Regions from separate parts of the Homo sapiens genome. Here region 1 is linked to region 2. The links come from fine-mapping of genetic effects on gene expression. A gene starts in region 2. The other region holds a variant in brackets. All regions are shown on one strand. Distances are between the middles of the regions.

The links. PIP is the estimated chance that this variant, and not a neighbour inherited with it, causes the effect. A credible set is the group of variants that fine-mapping cannot tell apart.
Region 1: its variant is the best candidate, but not a certain one, in a credible set for the expression of ZBTB33 in blood mononuclear cells (TOPMed, PIP 0.68).

What each region holds. Positions count from the first base shown.
Region 1 is chrX:120,271,314-120,276,694 of GRCh38, forward strand. The region is part of intron 7 of TMEM255A (transmembrane protein 255A); the gene reads right to left. It also overlaps the pseudogene PFDN4P3. Among named protein-coding and RNA genes, the nearest start is that of ZBTB33, 23 kb to the left of the region's middle. RefSeq lists an enhancer at 3,467-4,144. The variant A/T (reference allele first, on the strand shown) is at 2,343.
Region 2 is chrX:120,248,027-120,253,407 of GRCh38, forward strand. It overlaps ZBTB33 (zinc finger and BTB domain containing 33), which reads left to right and starts at 2,786. Exons shown (of 3, transcript NM_001184742.2): 1 at 2,786-2,951; 2 at 4,643-4,744. It also overlaps a transcript of TMEM255A not described here. RefSeq lists an enhancer at 2,493-3,331.

The DNA of each region.
Region 1 (5,381 bases), 23 kb after region 2:
GGGCTCCAGTCCCAGTTCTGCTACTCAGCTCTGGGCAAGTCACTTGACCCCTCTTGGCCTGTTTCCTCACCTGTTAAACAGAGACAGTAATACCTACCTCACAAAGTAGTAATAGTGAAGATTAACTGTGCAAAAGCACTTTGCAGAGGGTTAGGGGCCATTATTGCCGCTATCAAGACAGACCATCAGCAAACCCATTTTTTCCTCAGGAGATCAAAGATAACAGTGAAATTAAGAACGCAGAAACAAATCTATATATCTGCAGTTAATTGATTTTTGACAAGGTTGCTAGGATCATAAAGTAGGGAAAGAGCAGTGTCTTCAACAGATGTGCTGGGAAAACTGGATATCCACATGAAAAAGAATGAAACTGAGCCCCTAACTTATACTAGATATAAAAATTAAATCAAAATGTTTCAAAGCCCTAAATGTAACAGCTAAAACTATAAAATTCTTAGGCAAAAATGTGGAAATCATGACCTTGAGCTTGGCAATAGATTCTTAGATATAACACTAAAAGCACAAGCAACAAAAGAAAAGATAGATAAATGACACTTCATCAAAATTAAAAACTTTTGTGCTTCAAAGGCCATTATCAAGAAAGTGAAAAGACAACTCACAGCATGGGAGGAAGTACTTGCAAATCACATATTTGATAATGCTCTAGTATCCGCTATTTATAAAGAACTCTTACAACTCAACAACAACAAAACAGATTTAAAAATGGGCAGGATTCTTGGTCAGTGGCCAGGTCTCAGCTATAGCAGGGGAGTGGAGGGTGTGGGATGCTGGGGGTGCCCAGCTCTGAAGCTCAGTGTGGGGCCCAAGACTGAGGCCCCCAGCCCTTACAGCTGCTCTGTGGGGAGCCCTGTCTGCACCTAGGGCCCTGAGCATTTGCTTAGTCACCTGGCTTGTTGAGGCAGGGGGTCCCCAGGCCGGAATCCATGGAGGGCTCTGGGCACCTCTCTCAGTACTGAGGGTGCCTCTGGGGAGCATGAGGACCCTGCAGCCCAGGCCTTGTCCTTAGGGTATGGGAAACTGAAGGTCCCATTGACTGAGGTTGGCTTTTACGCACTTGATGCACTGATACGGTTTGGATTTGTGTCCCCACCCAAGTCTCCTCTTGAACTGTAATCCCTGTAATCCCCAGGTGTTGAGGGAGAGACCTGGTGGGAGGTGATTGAATCGTGGGGGTGGTTCCTCCATGCTGCTGTTCTGATGATAGTGAATGAGTTCTCACGAGATCTGATGCTTTTATAAGGGGCTCTTCCCCCTTTGCTTCCTTCACATGCACTCTCACCTGTTGCCATGTAAGATGTGCCTGCTTCTCCTTCTGCCATGATTGTAAGTTTCCTGAGGCCTTCTCAGTCATGCAGAGCTGAGTCAATTAAACCTCTCTTCTTTATAAATTACCCAGTCTTGGGCTATTTTTTTTTTTTTTTTTTTGAGACGCAGTCTCACTCTATTGCCCAGGCTGGAGTGCAATGGCACGATCTCGGCTCACTGCAACCTCCACCTCCCAGGTTCAAGTGATTCTCCTGCCTCAGCCTCCCGAGTAGCTGGGATTACAGGCATGCACCACCATGCCCGGCTAATTTTTGTATTTTTAGTAGAGACAGCGTTTCACCATGTTGGCCAGGCTAGTTTCAAACTCCTGACCTCGTGATCTGCCCACCTCGGCCTCCTAAAGGGCTGGGATTACAGGTGTGAGCCACTGCACCCGGCCGGGCAGTTCTTTATAGCAGTGTGAGAATGGACTAATACATGCACTTTACCTGGGTTATCACATCAGCCCTCACAAGTCCACAGGTAGGTGCTACTAGTGCTGTTGTTTACAGGCTGCAGAAAATTTCAACGCTACTTTTGAAGATCAACATTAGGTAAACAAATTTGCAAGGAATATGAGTAGAATCACAGAGCTGAAGGAAGAAACAGAAGTTAAAAGGAAACAACTCCACAATTTAGAAGTTGTTTGCAATGACATCATGCTTGCAGATGATGACTGCTTAATGATACCTTATCAAATTGGTGATGTTTTCATTAGCCATTCTCAAGATGAAACACAAGAAATGTTAGAAGAAGCAAAGAAAAATTGGTAAGAAGAAACTGATGCCTTAGAATCCAGAGTGGTATCAATTCAGTGAGTGTTAGTAGATTTGAAACTTCAGTTATATACAAAATTTGGGGGTAACATAAACCTTAAAGCTAATGAAAATTAAACATTTTATAATACTTTAAAATTTTGTTTAACAATCTTGAATATTGTTTGGAAAATAAAAAAATCTGCAAAAACTTGATAGATATTTCTCCAAAGAAGATATACATACAAATTGCACACAAAC[A/T]TATAAAAAGATGCCCAACATCACTGGTCAGCAGGGAAGTACAAATCAAAACCACAACAAGATACCACTTTGTGCCCACTAGAATGTTTATAATTTTTTTTGAGAAAGTGTTGGTGAGGATGTGGAGAAATTGGAACCCTCACACACTGCAGGTAGGAACGTAAAATGACACAGCTGCTGTGGAAAACAGTTTGGCAGCTCCTCAAAAAGTTAAACATAGAATTACCAAATGACCCAGCAATTCCACCCATAGGTGGAAAAAGAATTGGAAGCAGGTAATCAAACAAGTACTTGTAAGTGATTGTTCATGAAGGCACTATTCTCAGTAGCTAAAACATGAAAACAACCCAAATGTATATCAATGGATAAAAAACTAAACAAAACGTGGTCTATCCATACAATGGAATATTATTCAGCCATAAAAAGAAATGAAGCACTGATATATGCTACAAGGTAGATGAATTTTAAAAACAAAAAAAATATGATAAGTGAAAGGAGCCAGACCCAGAAGTTCGAATATTGCATGATTCCATTTATAGAAAATACCTGTAATAGGTAAATCCATAGGGACAGACAGCAGATTAGGGGTTGCTGGGGCCTCAGGGAAGGGGCAACAAGGAGTGATTGTTTAATGGGTACAGGTTTCAGGTAATGAAAAAGTTCTAGAACTAGACAGAAATGATGATTGCACAACATTGTGAGTGTACTAAATGCCACTGAATTGTACACTTTGAAGTGATCAATTTTATGTTTGTGACTTCCACCTCAATTTTTTTTAAAGGGGGACAGTGAGGGAAAACGGGACTAAAGCTAAGGCTAAAAGCTTGGCAGGGTTGTGTTCCTTAGCATATCATCTTCCTATTCCTCCCTTCTTTCCAACTTCCAGAAATTTCTTGAAAGTGTCCATCTAGCCACTCTCCCTGTCTTCCTCAGATGCCCTTTGCCTTCAAAATCCAATTCTTTCCATCACCATGGAAAAGGGTCTTATCAAATCCTTCACACTGAGAGACTAGTAACTCAAAGTATAAACACCTCTGTGGCCTACTAGCCTATTCCTTTGTTTAATACACGCATCTTGAAAGTGGACAAGGAGAAAAAGGACAATGCTTATCTTAAAGTAAGGAATAAAACATGGTGGCAGTTTCAGCGCCCACAGTAGGGTAAAATTGGAGAGGGGGAAGCCTTACAGGCACCCCACAGAGCCTACCAAGTAGCTACCACCTACTCCATTTGTGCATCAAGGTATCTCTGCCATCCAAGCCTGAAAGCTCTAGGGACAATTTAGAGAACTCTTAACACTCATCCTGAGGTCCCATCTCCTCAACTCGCCAAACCTGGGAGCTTCTCTTCCAGCCAAAGCTGCTGAGATTCCACACAATACCTGTACTTTCATCTGCCCCCTGGGGAAATTCTCCAAGAACAAAGGGCATTCTTTTCTCCAAAGAAGCCCCAACCCAGAAACAGCTTTTTTTGCAGCTCTCTAACCTAAAAGCTTCCTCAAGGCCAAATTTACAGGAAATCCTTTTCCCTCCTGGGGCTCCACCTTTGTTGATGCTTCCCCTACTTGTTAGTGCTTGGGCATTCCAGAGTCTGGGGAGGGAAGCTGGGAAGAGAAATGTGCGGATGAGAGAGGGAGAGAAAGAAGAAAGAGAGAGTGCAGATGGGCAGGAAAGGATTTCTCTTGACTTAGAGTCACTAGCAGGAACACTTAATAGTTCCAGTCAGCCCAGTACTGCTGGAGACTTGCAATCCAAAACGACAGAGTTTCTTTCTTTTCCCTTGTCCTACCCCACCTTTCACTTTCCAACATTCATCCTTTTGACCGTCCAGGATCAAATTACAAACTGCCTTTCAGGTTCTGTTCTTCAGGGACCCCAAAATCTGACAGAAACAGCCAAGGGCCTAGGAGCTAATTTCTGGGGTCAAAGGAAAGTCCCTCTTAGGCACAAAATAATTCCATAAACAGATGTGGGATGTTCATTTAAAGCAGTGGTATTCAATCATGGCTGCAGATCAGAATTACCTGGGAGCTTAAAAAAAAAAAACCAAAAAACCAAAAAACAAAACCTGATGCCTGGGCTTCAGTTTAGACCAATTAAATCAGAATCTTTAGAGAAGGAGCCCAAGCATTTTTTTTTTTTTTTTTTTTTTTTTAGAGACAGGGTCTTACTCTGTCACCCAGGCTGGAGTGCAGTGGTGCAATCATGGCTTACTGCAACCTCAACCTCCTGGGCTCAAGTGATCCTCCCACTTCAGCCTCCCAAGTAGCTGGGACTACAGATATGTGCCACTACACCCAGCTAATTAAAAAAAGTTGTTTTTTCTTAATAGAGACAGGGGCTGTTGCTCAGCCTAGTCTCAAACCCCTGGGCTTAGTCAATCCTCCTGTCTTGGCCTCCCAAAGGGCTGAGATTACAAGCATGAGCCACCATGCTGGGCAGGTGATTCTTATATGAAGCCAGGTTGATAACCATAACTCAAAGCTATTATCTCCATAATTAGAGATCTAGATTTATCAAATAAACAAATAAATGCTTAGAAATGCCTTAGAAGGAAAGGAAAAAAAGAAGCCTACTATATGGAGTACCTACTGAATGCTGAGTCCTGCTGTGCCTTTGCAGACACACACACACAAATAGAAAAGATTTGGAAGGGAAGAATGGAAAGTGGGGAGGCTGAGGTTGAGGTCCAAGTTGAAGGCAAGACCTGGCAAGCAACTTAGCCTAGAGCTGGCTCTGCGAATGCAAACAGAAAAGAGCCCAGATGCTCTTTCTGAAGAAACTTCACTATGAAATACCTGGGGAGGGGAAGACTAGCATTAATCCTACCTATAGCTAGAATAACCTTTCCTTCCATCTCTCCCAAAGTTTGTTAGGGGAAAACTATTCCCAAAAAATTTTACTAAAAGTGTGGGGTGGGGCTATAAAAGACTATGTTTACATAACCAGTGCGAATGGGGGAACTGAGAACACCCCTTCCTCCTTTCACCCCCCACCCCTAGAAGGTGCCTCCAGAACACAGGTAATTTGTGTATAACAA
Region 2 (5,381 bases):
AGGAAGTGGCAGTATCAGAATTCCAACCCACTCACATCTTCTGCTTAAGACTTTGTTTCTTCCACTCTACCTTACTAGGGTTTCTGCAGATCCCATGGAGTGACCTTACCAAATCTGTAACCATAAGCATAACATATAGGAAGTGCTCTAAGACTGAACGAGTGTCACTTTATCTTTTGTCATCAATTAATATATATTAAGCACCCACAAGATTGTTGGCATTTTAACACAGGAGAGGACAGTTACCGCCCTCATGGAATTCACAATCAAGGTCAAAAGGCAAGCAAACGCTGACAATACGGCTATAAAACCTAACTCATCCCATTTTCAGCCAATAAAACCTTTCTAGAATGTGAAACAATTGATACCTCCAAATCCATTTGATATAGGTTGTTCTCTGACCTCAGGTGATCCTCCCACCTCGGCCTCCCAAAGTGAGTTGTTGTTGTTTGAAATAGAGTTCAAACTACTGGGTTGTTTGAAGTAGGGTTAAGCCCTCCAGATTAAAAACAAAAGTAAAAGTGAAATGACTAGTTGAGAAACAGAAAATTAATTAAACTTTCCAGTGATCCTGTCCCAAAGACAATTATTAAGGCCACTCAGGCTTCTTGGTCTGTTCTGCTTTCCTACAAATAAAATTCCTTTCCTGACCATTGGACCCCCTTTCATTATAGGTAGCTTTTAAACTTGTTTAGTTTTTGCTTGGTTAGGGGGTGAGAGATACAGCAAGAAGGGAAGAGAAGGTTTACTGTGCTTTGAATGAACAGGTTTCATCATATGTTAGTTGGTACTCCAAACTTTTAAAATACTTTCAGGAAAGTGACAATGGCATGGCAATTCTGTTGCCAGCCTCAGTGATGTAAATGCTGGTACAAAATAAATTGCATTGTGCCTTCCAGTTTACTGAGAGCTGACCAACAAACATGATATCTAGAGTGGCATCTATTGCCACTGTGATCTGTATTTCAAAGATATGTCTCATTTTAGTTTTCATCAATTAAGCCACTGAAAGATAAATAGATCCTAAACTTTCAAGATATACTTTGTTCTAATTACTAAGATTTTTTTTTTTACTACTAAGTTTTGGGGAGGATAACTCAGAAAAATGGTTATTAAGTACTCAGTTGCCAGGAAAAATACTAATCTGCCTTAGTTTATTTTACAACAGCATACTTCTATTTGCCATGAAATATCTTTATAGTAAACAATGAAACTTTTCATAATGCTAAGTCCTAATCAAAAATCAATAATGCAATAATTCCCACATAGTTTGTTTTCCCACAATACAAAATCTTGGAGAAGAGCTTAAGGAATTGCATATTTCCATGTGAAATACAGCTATATTATACCACTTTGATGTTTTATTATACCATGTGGCTTTACTTTATTGAGGAGGATGAAGAATAGATTAGGGATAGGTAGATGAGATGATGACATCCATGTCTGATTTCCTGTCAGAGAAAATTAGATATAGTTACATCTGTTTTCAGTCTAATATCCTGATGGACATTTTCAGCAAGATTTTTTAGGAAAGAAGCACAGGAATTCCACTGCAAGGTATTAATAGGTACAAATTTAAGATTTTGGAAATGAATGCAGTATTATCCTATATATATCTTTTTAAAAAGATAATGAAGGTAGTGAATGGCCTTAATTATGGCAGAAAAAAAGTTACTATTTGGTTCCTTAGTTGAATACGATCAATAACCAGCCTAAAAGGGAAACATTTTGCTCTCCAAACACCCATCCTGTTGCTTCATTTATTATGGTACTCAGTTGGAAGGGTATTACCAGAGGATTTTAAAAAATTATGTAACTCACAATGTATTTTTTCGGTCATTAAACAATCACTGAACACATACTATGTGTCAGACACTAAAGCCCTCTGAAGATGAAATGTTATGGAAATAGTAATAATAAAAAATTAAAATAGTAACAATAAAAAATTAAAAATGCAAGTGTTAATATTATTAATCTTTCAAGATACAGGTCAAATGACAGCATTCAATTTGCTATTCTCTTCTCTCTGCTTCTACACCTTGTACAAATATTTTTGTCCATGTTTGTGTACCTACCTACTGAGCTCCCTAAAGAGGTAGAGACCTTTGGGTTATTCATTTTTGTATTCCCGAGAGCCTAACATAGGGTTTTTGCTACAGATCAAGCAGGGGGTCAGTAAATGCTAGTTGGAATGAGGGAATTAACATAGTACTGCACCATTTAGTATTCAATTAAGAAGATAGTTGTCCAAACACTAAATTTCTTTCTTAAAAGTAGTTACTGTAATGTAGTTGCTCTCTTGTTATCCCAGAACTTGAATTACCATAAGAAGTTGTGAATTTCTATTTGATTGTATGTATTTTGATTATATTTCAAGATGGTTTATCATCTAGCAAACAGTCTAATAGAGCAGATTCAAACTTGCAAAATAAATGAAACCTGTATAGTCTCTAAAAGTTTGTATGCCCTAGAAGTTCACATTGAATTTCGATGAAAACGACTCGCTTCCCTTCCATCCAATTGCTTGCGACTGTCTTACCCGATCTTTCCCTTTCCTTTTTTCCCACCCGTTAGCCCTCCGGAAAGAGCCGAACACACAAGAGCTTCCCAGTCTTCCTCCGCCCCCTTGCGGAAAGAACCGAAGGCAGAGCACGGCGCCGAAGTGGAGCCGCCTCAAGCTCGGGCCCTTCCGGACCACCCCGGCCTGCGCTCGGAAGAGGAGGGCGCCTTTGGCTTCAGCGCTTCGCCCCCGCGCTGTGCCCTCTGTCGGCGGCGTGGGGCAGCTGTAGCAGCGTTGGCGGCAGGAGGCGGCGGCCGCGTCGACGTCGACCCAGACTGGAGCGACGTTTAAAGAAGGGGCAGAATCGCTGGGGAGTGCGGCTTCTTCTTGTTGGGGGACTCCCAGCCTTCCGCGCGTCCGGAGGAGGAGAAGCGGCGGCGCCGGGAAGCAGGTGAGGACCCGGCCCCAATCAGGGAGGGGGCGAAGGAGCGCGCTTGCCTTCTCCGTCCCTGGGCCGCGCCTGCGTTTGCATTCGCCTCACTTGAACCAGGAAGCGGCAGAGTCGGAGGCTCAGCTCCTCCGGCTCTTTCTTTGTGTGGGCCGGGGAGCGAAGGAGGGGACGAGCCGCGAGGGCCGCGGCGCGGTCCCCTTCGCCGTTAGGGGCCGAGGGGCTGCCGGTGCCCTGGGTAGGCCCCGGGGCTTGGGGAATCCATCACAGAGACCCACTTGGCTTTTCCCTCGCCCCTCTCGCTGCTTTTTTGTGCCTCTTTTACTCCCCTAGCCCCTACTTTGATTTAGAGCTTTTCTGCCAGGCCCATCCTCCCCTTCCGTCCCCTTCCCGGGGCACAACAATGCCGCCTGCTTCGCTTCATCCCCCCCCCAACACCCCACCCTGCCGTTCGCCACCTTCTACTTTCCCTGGTACCCCATATTCCTCCCGCCCTCACTCTGCTGTTTGTACCTCCGTCTGTATTTGCAAGAAGCTTGCTTTGCACGTGAATTGGGGTTAAAAACCTCGGTTGCAGCTGGCAGGGTCCATATGGGGAAGAGGGAGGTGGAGGAAGGGAGATGAGGTTCAGCTGCCGCAGGGAGCCGCGTGTCGGTTTGTTTCACTCCCTCGCGGATGGCTTTTATCTCTTTCCACCGTCACCAGCTCCTCCGAACTGGCCCTCGGTCAAGGGTTTCACAGTGATGTGGAATGGCTTTTCCACAGTCGAATCGCATATCTTCGGAGTGGGTTCAGACCGACTTGTGCTGTCTCTGGGGCCACCCTGAGTGGGAGGAGGGGGACACATAAACGAAACGAAACCGAGTCCCAGTGTCACCTGGACACGTACATTTGACGCATTCCCATATTGGAAGAACCCGGGAGCAAATGACAAAAATTGCGTGCCGTTTTCAGAAAACCTGTCTTTCCACTTAATATCGACTTCTGTCGAAATGCCCGTATTTCGGAAGCCCTGGTTTTTGGCAAACTGTCCAAAGGTCACCCTTTCTGATGATGAATGCCTTTATGGTAACCTGGAATTCCTTGGTACTGTTAACATGCAACACCTTCTAATAATGTTTTAAATCTTGATTTTTAGACTTTTTGCCTGCTGTTTGTTCTTAAGGTATCATTTTGAAAAATTTAGAAGGTATTTGAGACAGAACTGCCCTCCACCTGTATATAACTTAAGCATTGTGACATCGACACCCTTTTGGTAACTTCAAAGGGAGAGAATATTAATAAAAATATTTCTTCACTAAAAGTACTTGTCAACTAATTGTTAATATATAATATCCATATATTAAAATATATCCATATATAATATGTATGGATATTATATATTTTTAATATATGGGTTTTTTTAAACTCTGGCCTCTTTGTTACTGGAAATATCTTCTGCAAAGTGCAAAAAATGATGTTTTGCTAGTGCTACACAACAATGCATTCTACTGACATCATCCCCTTTTTCTAGAGTAGTCTATTCCAATAAGTTAATGTTTTCATTTTCACTAACTCATTTGGTGTGGAAAAAATTCTCATACCAATGCATATGATTCTTTACCAACAAAAATAAAATGTTTCGTGTTTTCTTGGAAGTGGGCATTTAGAAATGGTAAACTTTCCTTTTCCTTTGTCATATTTTTTCATGATAGTGTCTGTTGACTTCACTTGGCACTGTTTAACATTCCACCTCTGGAAATTGTAAAGATGGAGAGATGAGGGGAAGGGACAAGGGGATGAAGAAAGAGGAAAGGGTAAGAAAGATGTTTAATAGTTTATCAAGATGAGGCACCCCAATTTAAATAACAGAAAAATAATGGGACGTTGGGAGGTAATAATTGTCAGTGTTTATAAATGTCATTGGCTCCAGGGTGTAGATTCTGCATATATTCTTAAAGATTAGTTAAAATTAAGAGTATGTATTTCAGACACAGTATTGCACGCGCTGAGCTTTTCTGACATTTCAATCATTTACAGGCGAAATAACTTCTGTGTGTTCATGATGATTTTCCTTAATTTTGACAGTTAAAAGTCAACTCTTACCTCTTCTTGGAGAGAAAACCCAAAATTGGGACTAAGAAAATTAATTCTAATCTTTAAAAATCACTTAGTGGAGGTGCATGTATCTAATATTCAAAAAAAGGTGACTATGGAGATTACTGTTCAAATCTCTGTAACAATGTAAAACTTGCTCAACTCAGGAGCAAGCCATGAAATTGGACACTTGTTCCAAAAGCCAACCTGTATGAACAATTTCTGTAAAAGCCAAAAAATTATGCTGAACTTTGGTTAAAACTTGAATAAACTATTTAATGATGCTACTGCTTAAATTCTAAATAAGTACTTTTGTTTTTTCTCTCTAATCCTCTCCCATCCCCTCCTCTCTTTCTC